2 separate regions of the Homo sapiens genome follow, and region 1 is linked to region 2. The links come from fine-mapping of genetic effects on gene expression. Tissue or cell type: lung. Region 2 holds a variant in brackets; the other region holds the start of a gene. All regions are shown on one strand. Distances are from middle to middle.

Evidence for each region. PIP is the estimated chance that this variant, and not a neighbour inherited with it, causes the effect.
Region 1: it holds the start of TENM2, and the variant in region 2 is fine-mapped to the expression of TENM2 in lung (GTEx, PIP 0.93).

The regions. Positions count from the first base shown.
Region 1 is chr5:166,975,348-166,983,575 of GRCh38, forward strand. It overlaps TENM2 (teneurin transmembrane protein 2), which reads left to right and starts at 3,682. Exons shown (of 31, transcript NM_001395460.1): 1 at 3,682-4,176. RefSeq lists enhancers at 2,739-3,240, 3,241-3,740.
Region 2 is chr5:167,963,618-167,971,845 of GRCh38, forward strand. All of the region lies in intron 6 of TENM2 (teneurin transmembrane protein 2), which reads left to right. Among named protein-coding and RNA genes, the nearest start is that of TENM2-AS3, 14 kb to the left of the region's middle. The variant C/T (reference allele first, on the strand shown) is at 4,299.

The DNA of each region.
Region 1 (8,228 bases), 990 kb before region 2:
CAAAAGCTTCCTATTTGTAATCAAAGCTTCCCTTTATCACTGAGCATGCCCAGCAGTCAGCTTAGAAGCAGAGCTGGACAAAATGCAGTTTTTACTTTACCGTGGCTTGTAGCCACTGCTGCTGCTGACAATGAGCAGGGAGGCAGTGAGGCATTGGGTTCCAGGTAAGGCCTGAAAAGGCAGAGGAACAGGGGCCTGAACAAAGGTGGAGCCTCGAGGAGAGGTAACAGGTGGGAGGAGTGGTGCAGAAGGCTTGCTTGGCTCTGGACAGCATGTCCTCTCTGAGTGAGGGTTCCCCCAGCCAGGATTTGCTGAAAATCTTGGAAAGCCCCAGTGCCATTTACAACATCCTGTACCACACGTCTGCAGTGAGAGATGCCTGGGTTTAGAATGTAGCTCTGCATTGTGACACTGGTTGTGACCTTGGTAAAATAACTTTAAGTCTTTGAATCTCAAATTCCTTATAAGATTTGATGAAGGGGAAAATGCACCGGCAGTATCTCTCCCTGGCAGTTAGATCCTCCGGCATTATCAAATACTATAGCATGGCTAAACTGCAACACCACACTGACATCACCTCGCCCCCATACCAACCTCCTCTGAAACGGTGAAGACAGACCTGGCCTCAAATCCTAACTCTGCTACTTACTAGCTGTAAGACCTTGGGCGAATTGCGTGTGTGTGTGTGTGTGTGTGTGTGTCTGTGTGTGTCTGTGTGTGTGTGTGTGTGTGTGTGTAAGAGAGGGGTTGAGAGAGGAACAGAGAGTGACTTTAGCTGGCAGATACTATGAGATAAAATGGGAAATTAAAGTAGACATATCACTGTACCCCTGGAGTTTATAGTCAGGTTTGTTGGGGAGTCTGTTTCATTGTCTGTAATTGGAAATAACCATGCTTAGCCAAAAGAATTGTTAAGGTTAAAATGAGAAAAAAAAATCTGAGCAAGTTGCCTAGCACATGGTGGGTGCCCATAGTAGATTAAGAATATCCTTGGCGAGGTGGCTAATGCCTGTAATTCCAGCAATTTGGGAGGCCGAGGCGGGTGGATCACTGAGGCCAGGAGTTCAAAATCAGCATGGCCAACATGGTGAAACCCCATCTCTACTAAAAATACAAAAATCCGCCGGGCGTGATGGTGCATGCCTGTAATCCCAGCTACTCCAGAGGCTGAGGCACGAGAATCACTTGAACCTGGGAGGCGGAGGTTGCAGTGAGTGAAGATCGTGCCACTGCACTCCAGCCTGGGCCACGGGGCAAGACCCTGTCTCAAAAAATTCTACTGCATGCCTCTTTAATTCTTACTATACTGAATGATTTATCTCTGTTACTTCTGTATTCCCCCATAATGCCATCCCCAGCATCTGTCTACCTTATTTCCCATGATCCCCTTTCATGTAGTCTGATTGGCTGTTGGACAACATGACAGGGGTTAGTCATGTGGACTGTAGCACCAGACAGACCTGCGTGGGAGTCCTTCTCTGCCAGTTATCCAGGTATGTGACCTTGGGCAAGCTACTTAATCTTACTCAGCCACATTTTACTCATCTGTGAATTGGGAATAAAAACAGCTCCCCTCTCCTAGGAATTATTATTCTTATTCCAAGAGTAGTTTGTGTGTGTGTGTGTGTGTGTGTGTGTGTGTGTGTGTGGTAGAGAGTGAGAGTGAGTTTAATTAAAAGAGACACATTCTTGCCCCCATGGAGTTTACAGTCTAGAGGGTTCATGTGTGTCTAGGAGACATACACTAGCTAAATCATAACACAAGTGGAAAACTGAAGCTACCACAAATTTTTTAAAGTTACATGATGCCTTGAACACCTGTAATAACCCAGAAAGATCTCACGACTTCCCTGAAGAAGTTGATGCTGGAAGAGATAGATGAAGGATAAATAGGAGTTTGCTAGATGAAGAGGGGAGAGAAATGCATTCCTAGCAAGCCCTCAGTAAATGCCCCTCATTAGCATTTTAAGCATATGATCACCGTCTTCTTGTTAGAATATAAGCCCAAAGAGTATAGAGATAATGCCCTTGTCATCCCGTCACCACTAGGATAGCACCTTGAAGGAAGTAAATGCTCAGTAAATATCCTTGAATGAGTGAATGTTACAAAATCAATGAATTTCTTGAATGAAATCAAAAGTAACTGCCATGGCCTCATCCCATGGCTTTATTCAGAAGGCAATTAAGGGAGATGCAAATTCTAGTAAAAAACAGCATAGACCTTGCAATAGGACAAACAGTGTCTTCATTCAGGGCCTGTCCCTTGAGGGAAGTGACACCACATCTCAGTCTCAGCCTCCTCATATGTAGAAGGGGGGTAGGATAGTTTCTTTACAGAGTTCCTTTAAAGATTAAGATGGCACCTAATTAAAGGATGAACAAGAGTATGTAATCAAGAGATAAGTATTATTAATATTAGTACTATGAAGACATTGGCAAATTTCAGGCATGCAGTTTTTCAAGGTTTGTAGGTTATTGAAGACAACAAGCCAGGTACAGCTTGAAGGCCAGAGGATGTTATCACCCAAACACCCACCAGGCCTTTACCTTGCTGTACTTGCCTAGCGTTCATCCACACTCCTCATCCTGTCTCCAGTGACTGAGGGCCAGACTGCAGGGTTTAGATTCTTGATGTATTGGGTATGATATACTAGCAGTTGGTAACATTCTGGGGCCTCGGTTTCCTCCTAGGGTGGATCATACAGTGTCTGAACAGGTTAAAATCAGATAATTCATAGGCAACACATTCCACAGAGCCTGCACAGAGCTGAACAAGCAATACTTGTTCAGCTGTTACTATTAAAACCACCAGGCCCTGCTGGATTTTCTGTTAATTACCCTGTAAACTGAAACAGCCTTTCCTGGGCTAAGAATTGTTTCTTTTCAAAGATTCCCTATATGAAAAAAAGAGAAGTAACTCCTCTCTGACGTCTGGAAATCTAGCTTCCCCATCACTACGTCCTTGGGTGCAGGTTCAGAGCCACCGGGCAGCCTAGATGAGGCAGGTGAGCAGCGGCTGAAGACTCTGGAACCTTTGCTTCTCTCTGGAAGCTGCAGAGCTCGGCTCTGCCCTGCTCTGCGTTCCTAACCCTGGAAGAAGCGGTCTGGGTGCAGCCAAGCACTGGACATGCTCGCGAGAGCCAGGGCAGGCTCGGGTCGTCCGCAGGACTCGAAGGCTTGCTGTGCTCTCCTGTTTGCAGAGACCTGGGTGTAGCTGTGGTGCATAGATGTGGTGCATCGGGTGCCGAGCGGATCCCTCGGTGCGTGCAGCTAGGGATCCAAGCCTCCTCAGGCTAACCCTAGAGCCGAACTGAACTCTGAGCCGCCCGGGGTTCGCGCGCTCAGTTCCTGGTCTTGGAAACGCCCAGCTGGGGTTCTCTCTGCAGACAAAGGGGTGCACGTGTCCCTAGCGCCCCTCTTTCTCAGCCGTGAGCCCCTCCCTGGCTGCGTACCCCGCAGCCACAGCAGCTGCAGCCCCAGCGCCACCACCCAACCCCGGCGGCCTGGGCCGGTGCGCGCTCTCGGGGCCCAGGGATTGGCTCGCACTCCCCATTCAGGGACCGCGAGGGCTAGCGGGCGGCGCACGGCGCTCTGTGTGTGTGTGTGTGTGTGTGTGTGTGTGTGTGTGTTTGTGTGTGCGCGCGCGCGCGTGTGTTGTGCGGCGCGCGGGCGAGCGCGTGTGTGCGCGCGAGAGCTCGCGTGCAGGAGTCACTGGGTGTGCGTGCGTGTGTTATGGGTTTGATTCCAGAGCAGGTTGCACATTGGTCCTGGGTGGCTCGCAGGCTCAGGTCGTGCTTGGGCGTCCTCCTCCTAATCGTTTCCGAAGTAGCAGCAGCAGCACCACCACCAGCAGCAGCAGCAGCAGCAGCAGCAGCAGCAGCAGCAGCAGCCGCCGCGGCAACATCGAGCTCAGCGGCACAGCAGGCAGAACTGTGCAGAAGCGAGCACCGTTTGGGGAGTCCGGGGGGCGGGTAAGAGGGAGGAGGGGGAAAGCCTGTCTTGGTCTTTGGGATTATTTTTTTTCCCCTTCTTTCCCTCTCTCTCTCTTTCTTGAGGGTGTGTGTTGCCCCCTCGAAGTGAAGGAATTTTGCTCCAAAGCGAGCTGGGACCGAAGACTCTAGGCTAAGTTATCTATGTAGATGGTGTCAGGGAGCGAAGCTACTGACCGAGCTGCTGGTAAATGTTTTTCACTTCTTACTCTTTAATGCTTAAGGCTTTTTTCCCCTTTTCTTTCTTTCTTGTTTCCTTTCTGTTGCTCCTCATTCTGCAATCGCTCCTGAATCAGCTGCAGTTCTCTTTCTCTCCTTGCGTTTGTGCAGTTTACAACTTGTTTCATGGTTTTCTATGTATTTTTTTTTCCTCCTTCATCCTCAGATGAATGCTGGAACATTTAAATTCGGCACTTCGGGAGGTCATCATTAGTTGCATGAGTTTCAGGGGGGGAGGGGAAAGATTGCTAGAGCAGACTGTTATTTCCCTGCAGAAGGACTGCCGGTTTCTCTCTAATGTTCATCGCAATTATAGGGATTTTTTTTTAGGATGCATTTTAACGTTGCATTGCTGTTTAAGGTTATCGTTCTCCAGGATTACAATGCATTTGACTCAGTTTTGACAGCATGAGAGATGCCAGTGATTCCAGAACTACTGTATGGTACATGCTGGCTAAAATATTCAAAATTGCAGGAGGAATCATTTGCATTCCAAAAGAGAATTTCTTTAAAAATGCCGTTTTGCATCACATTGCTACAGATTTGCAGGAGGCAATAATAGACACCACTACCCATGTTGCTTGCAAAAGATAATAAACATATAAGTGCTTTAGTGCATCACATACTGTCTTGGGCTCCAGTGATTGAGCTATTGCTAAATTTACTTAATAATAAATTTAGGGCTATGGAGAAAGAGGGAGATTGCTGGTACTGTTTTATTCAAAATTGTGAGACACGTACAGCAATATCTCTCTTAGATCTTACTTGAAGTGGCATCTTGTCAATGGAGGGGAGGGTTCTGCATACACATGGAATAAAATTATTTAAAATAGCCAGCATAATGAATGCAAATTGAACTCTAACTCTTTTCTTAAAAATAGAACTCACTCTGTAACTCTGGCTGCCGGGATCTGTTTTAAATATTATTTAAAAATTAATATACAACAGCTCTTTAATGCATTCATATCATTTAAAGTTCTTTGGAGGGTTCTTGATCATTACCATGTTTTATTTGTTTTGCTTTTTTCCTCTTAAGTTTTCAGTTCCAGTTGAGTAGAAAAACTGAAGGGCCAGTGAGTAAAGGCAAATCAGCAATTTAGAAAGGAATCAGTGTATAGTTGTAAAATTTCTGCTAAGCCATGGAAAAATGAACTAATATAATGGCAGCTTAAATGGAGGAAGGGGGCCTCTGTGGTACAGCAGGTTGCAGTTTCTGTACATGTATCATCATCCTGAGAAACCCTGAACTCTAAACTGAGATGAGGACATCCAGTTCAGGGATACTCTGAGACACATACATTCTACAGAGGGAAAATGTTGTTATTCAAGGAACCCTCCTTCTGCTAGGTGGTTGCCACATCATAGAGCAGCAACTTGTCTATGTGCCAAGAATACGTTTGCAATAATACTCTTAAACTTTGTTTAAATGTAAACTTAACTAATGTTGGAAGAACTACATGAAAAAGTGAAGGCTCTTCAGCCCCAAAAAACAAAACAAACTGTAAATTAACTCAACTAGTCAGATCTTCTTTTATGTAGAAAAAAACCTACTCTAAGGCACCATGCAAATTCACCTGTTCTGGGTCCCCTGTGTTGACAAAAGCCTTTCTTAAAATTGTGAACAGAATTCCTAAGACCTAAAGCTTATTTCTTCCTTTGTAGTCTGCTGAAAGTAATAAGGCATTTTATTTAGAATGAAAGCTCAGCTTATTCATGGGTCCCTTGAGATGGCAATATTGCTGTTTTAAAATATTTTCATGGACCTTTGAATGGACTGTTTTGATCAAGTTAGTGGGGGGAAAATCCAGCTTGCATTCATTAAGACCACAGTTGTCTTTGAGTGAAGCATTTGTTTGTCTAGGTACTAAAGAAAAATGATTTCATATAGTAAACTTCAATCCTAAGAACCCAAGGTACCTAAAGCGTCAGGTTCCCTCCTTCTAGGACCCAAACCAAAAAGCAATATACCCCATGCTGGGCAGCTGTATTATTTCTCTGGCATATTCCACACACATGTGTAGGAAAAGATAACTGACCAGGCTAAGGGCTTATTTTGCTAGGCTCGTGGGGCAAGATTTCTAATTGTTATGTAACATATTCAGATCATGAATTTATTTATGAAACATCAAAATTAGCTTCAGTTTCAGTATCTTCACTAGACTCGAAGACTATGAGTACGTTGATTTAAAGAACATTTTTTTCCTACTGAGGTTGTTTTTTTTACCCAGCCACCCCTCTGTCTACTTCTAGTTTCCTGGCAACTTCTGAAAAGCTCTGATAATTTGTGTTAAAATATTAAACATATCTACATTTTGGGTGTGATACCAGGTTAGATTACTATTCAAACAACTGGATTTGTATGACTCTTACATCGTTTGGTGTGGTATTGTGTTTGTGGCTTGTTGATGGGTTTATTATGATAATAATTATTAAGTTTGTTAATTAAATCTTAACTAAGCTTCTTTTAACTTTTTGTGCCTAGTGTTGATTTCAGGTTAATGTATGAAAATAATACTATCATCTTGATAGCCTTGCTGGTAACTTAGATAGTTTCATTTCAACTGGTCTTCTTGTTAAATTTCAGCATGGCATTGGACTTAACTGGGGAGAAGGTAACTTGGGGTGATGGCTATGTAGAAAGATAGGTATCCGAGACTGTTGATTCATGGAACTTGTCAATCACATTTGGCTGTATTGTTAGAGTTCCTACTTTCATTTTGATAAGAATGGAGGTTTCTCTGCATGTGTGAATCCTTTATTATGCTATAGCTACTGAATGTTTCTTAACATTAATTGCTATTTTTTCATTGTGCAATTGAAGGGAACTTTGAACTACTTGTGTGTTTTTAAGGAAAACCTGTTTGGCTAGTTTTTTTCATTGTTTTCTTTCTGTGCAGATTAATTTTGAGAAGTGATTTCTGGTGAAATATGGTCAAGGTCATTTCCAAGGGCCTTTTTGTCCCTTCCCACTTGAGAACTAAAACTTAAACAGAAAGACAGACTTAAAGAGGCACAACTTAGCATCACCCTACTTAGCTTGAAGGGGGCAACATGAAAAGCCTATGTTATTGTCTTTCATTACTTTGTGTAAAGCAACAGTTTTGTTCTTTGAACTGCTGGTTCCCAGTAGCCCTGATGTACTCACAAGGAGAAACCCCCCATTCTGCACTCATAGTATATACCACAGATTCCCAACCTTCAGGGAACATTGCAAGACATATATATATGTTTTTTTTGGGGGGGGGAGGAGACATGTCTTTTGATACATTCTCAGTAGTAGGGGACATAGCAGTATTTGATTAAGCATGATGTATTTTCTAACTACATAATACTCTGCTTTAAGTTTTGTGAAAGCAACAGTAATTTTATGAGTCTTATTTGCTGAGAGCAAATAGCAGTTTTGTCAAAGTATTCTTTGTACTTCTGGTTTATATTTTGCTTTAAAGAGGGAATGTTCACATTGTTCAGTACTATGCACTATCAGCAACAGACTTTTTAAAAATTATTTTGGGTTGTTTTCTCTCCTTAATAAACATAAACCACTACTTAACATAATTATTTTAGGTGTTTTAAGACTGTGTAATAAGAGGATAATATATCAGGTCCTGCTCATATTTCCAAAAGATTTCATAAAGTTATGGAGGTAGAAAATGTTTTCCCTAAAATTAATGTTACTCATGACTGCAGTCTATTTAATATATTGTATACTACAGTATGATTCTGAAACTGAAATACTGCATCCTTTTTATGAATTCTTAATGGGAAAAAATGAAGCACCTCAGAAATAGTTTGCAAGTAAAGTTCCTTCGTTTTTACTGCCAGACTTTCACTGGCCCACCTCTCCTAAGTATAGAATTACGAGCCTTTCAGGTGAAAAGAATGATCAGGGAAAAAGTACAGTAATGTGCTTTTCGAATGTACTATGAGTGAAAAGAGAGCAGGTGTTTTTACACTTTTCCTATGAGTTTGATAAAGAGAAACTGAAACCAAGTAACACAGCTAATATGTTAGAATAGAATC
Region 2 (8,228 bases):
AGAGGTAATGAGCAGGCATTCTGCCACTCCCAGAATGCAAAGCGTGTCTCTTTAGTCCAGTGTGTCTCCTTAGACCAGTGGGGAGTGGGTCCTTTCCTCTCTGCATTGCTCTCTTGATGTCCCCATCAGTCTTAATGAAGCATGTTAGATCTTCTCTGAACTATGCTGCTTTTTTTTTTCTATGATGAGTACATTGGAGGGGCTGATTAAGGAGGCATAACCAGAAAATAGGACTGTTTGGAATTTAACAAAAGACAAACAAGCATATAAGGGAAGTTCTGCATCAATGTAAAATAAAAGAACAATGCATATAAATTTGTACTACCAAAAGCAGTCTATTCATGTATAAACCATAATATAATCCAACGAAAATCAAACATAAGGCAGAACTAACTGCAAGCAGTCTGTACTGTCTTTTCTTAAGTAGTGTGTTACAGAATCCCTCTACCCTCCACCTTCCTCCCAGCCTATTCACAGAAGGTTTTGAAACAAAGTCTACTTGCAATTCTTGTTCAATATCACCTATCTACTCCTTCCTCTGCTGAAAGTGACAAGGTGAGAAATCTTCCCGGTCGGCTGCTTCTTTGGGAGTTTCTAAAGTCAACTTCTCTTGTCTAAAACAGTAGAAAGTAGCTCAGTGACAGAACCTAACTTTTCTTCCTTTGTGTGTTTTGCTGAAGCAAGCGTCTCTCTTTGGATCTGTCTGAGCAGTAGATCACAAAAAAGAGTCCCTAAGCAGGACAAAACTTCTCTCTGAGTTCACTTTTGCCCTGACATACTAGAAGCCCTAATTTTAATCATCAAGATCCTCAAGCTGCAAAACGGTTTGCAATTTGCCTTTTTAAATGGTCATTCATTAATTATTCTAGAAATAGCTATGAGAACCTACCATGTGTCAGGCACTGAGGATCCGGCAAAGGAGAAAAACAAAACCTCTGTCCTTATGGAGATTCTAGGCTGGAAGCAGACAGAACATAAACAAATGTCCCTTACACCATGACAAATGCAGTAAGTGCCACAGACGGCTGAAGAAGCCAGACCCATAAGAAATGGACATTTAAGCTGAGCCCTTAAGGATGAGTAGGGGTTAATCAGGCTTAAAGAGTGCTCTAGATCACAAAAACAATGAGCCACTAGGGGCAGAAACACTAAGGTGCCAGAAAGAGAAAGCAAGAGAAAGCAAACTAGAAAGGTAGGCAAGGGCAAGATGGATCAAGGCTTTGGACCATGTTAAAGCTTTTGGACTCTACCTCGAGAACAATTAAAAGTCACTGAAGCTTTTTAAGCAGGAGAGCAAAATAATAAGATACACTCTGCTTTTTGCTTTTAATAATGATAGCTGCCCTATGATAAATGGATTGGGGGGCAGTTAGAGTGGAAAGTATGCAAGACTAAAGGTCCAGTTTGGAAAATAAAATAATAGTTAAGATAAAAAGTGGCATGCCTTTGATTAGGGAGTGGTGCTGAATATTCAAAGATGTGAGGTATAGTTTGAAGGTAGGATCAGTAGAAATTAATGATTGCTGGGATTTGAAGATGAAGGTTAGGATTCTTCAAGTTTTTGACTTAGATGTCTGGGTGAATAGCAATGTCATGTGCTGAAGAAGGAACAGGTTTTTGTGGCAGAAAACAAAAGTTCAGTTTTGGACATGTTACATTTATGAGGCAAGAGAATTGAGTGCAGTTATTGGCCAGACTTATTTTGATTCTAAAATAATATGTATAACACAGAAAATCATCCATTTACAGATAATAGCATATGTAGTATATCCAAAGCCCTCAGCAATTGATTTTTCTCTTTAAAAAATGTCTCTCCAGGCCAGATGCAGTGGTTCATACCTATAATCCCAGTAATCTGGGAGGTTGAGATGGAAGAATCTCTTGAGCCCAGGATGTGGAGGCTGCAGTAAGCTATGATCACACCCCTGCGCTCCATCCTGGGTGATAGCGTGAGATTCCATCTTAAAAAAAAAGAAAAAAAATTCTCTCCAGAAATTTGTTAAATTTATTTCACACAATCATATAGGCCTGTGAATACTAACTTTTCTTTGTCAAATACTTTTTGCTTGGCACTAAGCTTTACCTACAGGATCCCATTTAATCCCTTAAGCTCTTTGTTAGGTATATGTTACTATCCATATTTAAAATACAGGGAAACCAGGGCTGGGGGAATTAAGTTATTTACATGTCACCCATTAGTAAGTGACAGAGCTGAAATTTGAACCTGGGTTGACCTGACTTTAAATCCCATATTCTTAATGACCATATGATAATGCCTGGGGAACTAGGAAGGGCGGGGGCTGGAAAAAACTCTGTCTAGCCTGATGGCAAACAACAAATTAATTTGCTTAGGCCATGAAATGAAGTCAATGCATTACAAGTGGCATAAGGCGAGAAATGATCTATGGGATGAACTCCAGCCTGTTACTGGACATAGACTTAGTCATTGTCAAACTCATAAGCCAGGCCAGATGCAAGAGACCCTTCTCTGAAGCTCTGAGGAATTGGTGGCAACCCGGATGGTAAATCTGAGGCCTCACCACTCCATGGTGGTGGCAGCATAGCATATGATTTACGGGGAGAGGTTTTATGCCCTGCATATTATAAAATATGAGTGCAGATTGACAAGGGAGAATTAAGAAGCACAGCTACTTGTTTAGCTCTGCAACTCGTAGGATCTTTTTCATTCTAAACAGAGCTCTGCCAGATTGCTGGGAGAAAGCGCAACAGCCATGGGTGCCATGGCTGACCCTTGGGGCATCCCTTGAATATCATCCTTGTTCCTGTTAGCAGGAAGCATGACAAGTGCTCAGAAAAAGAATTGAGCATGTTGGGCTTGCTGAGTGGTATCTAAGGAATCTAATTTTGGTGTCAGAATTTTTAAAAACACACTTTTTGTCTTCAAGAAGAAGCAATCTTAGACTAATCTGGATGCCTTATTGGTAGTGCGTATTTGGAAATCGAGATTCAAGACCTTCAGTAAATGAGGCTTTCACAGAGAAGAAACAAGATTGTTGAAACATCTTCACCATGCTGAGTGCAAAGACTATTCCAAACTTGTTCTCAGATTGATTTTTCTACCTAAGGATTAATTTTCTGACAGAATCACTGACAAGCCTGATCTTTAGAATATTAAACCTAGGCAACCTGTTTGCTTTTTTGTTTGTTTTTTAATGTTTTCAAGTGAGGTTTAAAGGTAGGATTCATTCTGGGTGAACCAAATGCATCGAAGCACTTTCAAATCAATAGGCAGCTTGATTTCTCTGTATTGCAAAACATTATGCCCCCTCTAAATTCTCATCACAGGCAACATGGAAATTAATGAGACCTTTAGATTAGCCTTTCAAGCTCAGCCTTATTTTATAGCTTTACCTTGCCTTTTTGACACCACGATCTCGCCTGGCCACCAGCAGCATTTCATGTTGCAGTGCACTTTAATTTTGCAGTTTTCTTAGTCTTCCTTGGAAACTGGCAGCTTATTAATCTCAATAACTGAGCTGCTCAATAGGCAAGCTCACCAATGAGAGACCAGGCTGTGTCTTTTTTTTTTCTTGGCAGATGGAAACAAGGGGGTTGGTTGTTGGATGGAGGCAAGGGAGGTGGCAGAGAAAAAGCTGGTTAGGAGGGGCACCTCATCCCCCACATCACTTTCTGATAATTGGCAGGAAAATAAAGCAAGCCTAGTCTAATCCACTGCTCTGTAATTTATGGCTTGTGGTGTTAAACACACTCGAACCCATTAATAAGAAAATAAATAAAGTGTTGTGGCACGTGTGCAAATTACAAGGTGCATTAAGAAAGAAACAAGCATTACATCTTATTCAAGACCACTCCAGCCTATTCTTGGCATGGTCTGCAAACTTGGAAGCATCCTGGAAAGTGGAGGTACCTAAGGAGAAGCTGTCCTTTTTAAATTTGCCTGCCTCTACAAAATTAAAAACTTATTGAGGAATTGAACTTCTTATTGCAGGGTACCACAGCTAAGTCTCTAGGTAGAAAGAACTTAAAAAAAAGAAAAATAAAAATCCATCCCTCAGCAGCCTTTACCGTGGGGACCCAATTACAAATTGAGACCACCCTGTGGTCATGCATTGTAAGAGCAAGACTTTGCCCTGAGTCTGTGTAAATGTCGAAGACTCTGGGGTTAAGTTCACAGTTGAAAAAAGCCAAATATTTCCATCTCTGTCTGTGCTCTTTCACCCATTCAACTAATATCAACTGTCATTCCCTTGAGGCACTTCCTGAAGTCTTCCCAGAGGATATTTTATCTGGCTCAGACAGGGAGAAACTTGATGAAG[C/T]GCAAGTCCTTTCTAATTCTGGCTCCCTGATGATCCTTTTCTTTTCGCAGAAGCCAGATAAGGCATCCGCAGTCCTACCAGGCAGGGGAAGTAGGTCCTGCAACTTTTCTGAAGGCACCTTTGATTTATTAGTCTTGGCCTTATTTGCTTTTGTGAGTTGGAATCTTATGTCCCCAGACTTGCAAACCGTCACGAGATACTCAGCCATTCTGCTCAGCTGCAGCTGCATCCTTTAGATTTTATGGGAATGTTTAAAAAAACTTTTCCTACATTAGGTTTTTTTCTTTCAAAACCCACCAGACAATTTGGGGCCATTCTGTGAGTATTCTTTGCAAATACTCCTTTGAGAGGTCATGGCAAAGCGCTGCACAAAGGATCACCCTCAAAATCGTGTATTTTTCAAATCCCTTATTGAATCATTTCTTGCTCAAAATAACTGTTTAGGAGTGAGGAAATACCTCCAATTGCTGTCATTTGTACTTAAGCTGTGTATGCCTTATAGTTCAAAAGAGACTGAATACCAATTCTTTTCTATGTGTTAAATGGTACTGAAATCAGATTTCAATTTGCTAGAGCTTCAATTGCGAACCAGCATTCATGAGTCCATTTCTCAACAATTAATACTCCTGTAAAGGTATTGCACACCAATAATACGACCTTTAAATTTTTATTTTATTTTTTAATTATTTGAACAAAGGGTTAAAATCCCGCCCTAAAGGGAAGGTGGGAAATGTTGCTTTACTTAACACTGGTATGTTCTTAGATAAGAATTTTCGATGATCTTAGTGACTTTCTTATTTCTTATCAACGCAGATCCTCTCCACTATACTTGGGGACATGTAATGAGAAGGCACAGGGAGCTATTAGGCCCACTGAAGCATTTGGTGGGACTCTAAGGAGCTCTACTCTCCCCCATCCCCACTCTCACCAATTCAGGAAAATGAAGGAATAAATTTACAAGCCCCCTGTGCAAGGGGCGGTGCTATGCACATGTGCATTTTCTGGATGTTCTTGTACTCAGTCATCTTTTCCAGCTTCTAACTCTCAGAATCCATACAAGGAGACATTGTAGTTCTATTGACAATCTTTTCACTTCTTGGAAACCACGGACCACTCCTTTTGGTCTTTGTTTTTAGACATAATCATCTCTGAAATGCCGACTTTGTGCCCAGTAGGATACTAGGCACTTTACATCATGTTATCTGAATTAAAGCCCTTAGGGGAGAGATGTTGATAGGGTTTGGCTGTGTTGACACCCAAATCTCATCTTGAATTGTAGCTCCAACAATTCCCACGTGTTGTGGTAGGGACCTGCTGGTGGGAGTTAATTTAATCATGGGGGCGGGTCTTTCCCATGCTCTTCTCGTGGTAGTGAATAAGTCTCATGAGATCTGATGGTTTTATAAGGGGGAGTTTCCCTACACAAGCACTCTCTTTGCCTGCTGTCATCCATGTGAGACGTGACTTGCTCCTCCTTGCCTTCTGCCATGACTGTGAGGCCTCCTCAGCCATGTGGAACTGTAAGTCCATTAAACCTCTTTCTCTTTATAAATTACCCAGTCTCGGGTATGTCTTTATTAGCAGCGTAAGAACAGACCAATACAGATGTTCTTGTCCCCTTTCAACATATCAGGAAAATGAAACTTGAGAAAGTGGAGGATTTGGGACAGAGAGAAGATCCTGACAGAACAGGATTCAAGTAATACTTAAACTCAGGCTTTGGGAGTCTCTCAGCCTTGCACTTCTTTACTTTCTACCATCGCTGTTATGTAGGCCTCCTCTTGTGGGATTTTTATGGTAACTATATGCTATATTCTCAAAGCTTAGAAACCTAACAGAAAGTAAAGCACTTCTTGACATTTCAACAACACTCCCTTGATTGAGTCTCATGGAATCCAACTAGAGTCACATGCCCACAACTGACCCAAGCCTCAAGCCTGGAGTCTTGGCGAGCAGACCACATTAATTGGCCAGGCCTGGATCACGTGCCCATGTGGGGGCCTCATAGTGGAGAGGAAGGAGTGTGGCCCATAACCAAACATCGTGCTATTAGGAGACCCTGAAATGGAGGGCTGGCAGGCAAAAGCCACAGACCAACTCAGGCCACATTCAATGTTAATTTGGTCACAGCCCAGCTCATATTGCCTGATTGTAATGATTTTCTCCTCCAGGCAGACACAGTCCCGGCCAGGGTGGGGAAATTGCAGGACATTGAGTTATCTCACTTGCCAGAGCACAGAAGGGGGTTTACAGCTGATTCCAATAAGAAGTCGAAAAAATTAAGTTTCACTGACTAACTTCTGCCCCCTTCTGACTCATCACCCTCTCTGGTTGACTTCTCAAACGTCCCACGACTTTACTTTTGAGTTCACTGTGGCCACTTAATGCATTTTAACTTTTATTAGTCTCCTGACATCTCTTTTAAGCTATCATCTTCTTTCCTGCAAAAGTGCTTGGATTCCACATTTTCTAATTAAAACATGCTCATTTATTGTCTTACTAACCAGTGCTCTTTATGAGGGCTCATGATGAGAAAGTTAACTCAAAACATCTCGATGCATTTCCTCTCTCTTGGAAATGGCTGGAGAAGCAGTTTTGCCTTATCAAGTTGAATGACTTCGAAGAACTTTTGGTTTTGCTTTTTAATAAAACCATGAATGGGAAACATTTAACTCCATGCTTCAAGCTCCTAATATTCTCAGCAATGCAGTATATTCTGTTTGTTGTGGTGTGTGTAGGTGAGACAGATTGCAGGGGTCAGATAGCTCCATAATGAGTATAGGTAATATCAGAATAGTTCTGTGTTTAATTAGATAAAAATTTTTGTCCTAACATGCAACACGTCCTAATGTTCATAATGGTGCCCATTGCTGTTTATACTCCAGTGAATTAATCTGATATTATTAGAGGTTGTAAGCTTCAGTGCAGCAGGGGGTAAGGGTGGCACACATGCATTTAAACCCACCGAGAATTTCAATATAATCGTGTGTGTGGTGGCACTGGGGTGGGCTGGGAACAAGGTAGAAGGCGCATATTCAGTATATGTCTGCGTATACTTTGTTTTTTCAGTTTCACTACTATTTGCTTTGTCTTTGGAAACATAAAAGCAGTGTTACAATGGGGACATCCTCATGTCCTGTCGATAATGTGCATCTTCAAATTCATAATACCATTCAGTTTGGGGAAAAGAGCGAAGTATAGCATTCTTCACAGAGCTTACCCCAAATAGCTAATTCAGGCAGAAAGGGAGAGACAGAGATAGAGATAGAGATGATAGAGATAGAGACAGAGATAGAGATAAAGAGAGAGAGATGGAGATAGAGATAAAGGGAGGCAGAGAGAGAGAGAGAAAGAAAGGGGAAAAAGGGACCTGGTGATGCAGATATGGAAAAAAATAGATGCCCTCTTCAGGGAGGTCGGCCCTTGATTCTGACCACTACATTAGAAAATATTAGAAGGAGTCAAGGTCAACATGAATTGGGTTGGCCAAAACAACTGAGCCCAGCTGGACGCGGTGCCTCACACCTGTAATCCCAGAACTTTGGGAGGCCGAGGCAGGTGGATCACTTGAGGTCAGGAGTTCAAGACCAGCCTGACGAACATGGTGAAACTTCGTGTCTATTAAAAATACTAAAATTAGCCAGGCGTGGTGGTGCACGCCTATAATCCCAGCTACTTGGGAGGCTGAGGCAGGAGAATTGCTTGAACCTGGGAGGCGAAGGTTGCAGTGAGCCAAGATCGCGCCACTGCACTCCAGCCTGGGTGACAGAGTGAGACTCCATCTAAAACAAACAAACAAACAAAACAAAACAAAACAAAACAAAAACAAAAAAAACCCTGAGCCCTGATCATTTAAGTGAAGGGGTCATCATTTGGCTGCACAGAGGCAGAGTTTTCAAACTGGAAACCAAGTTAAGATCACCTAGTATA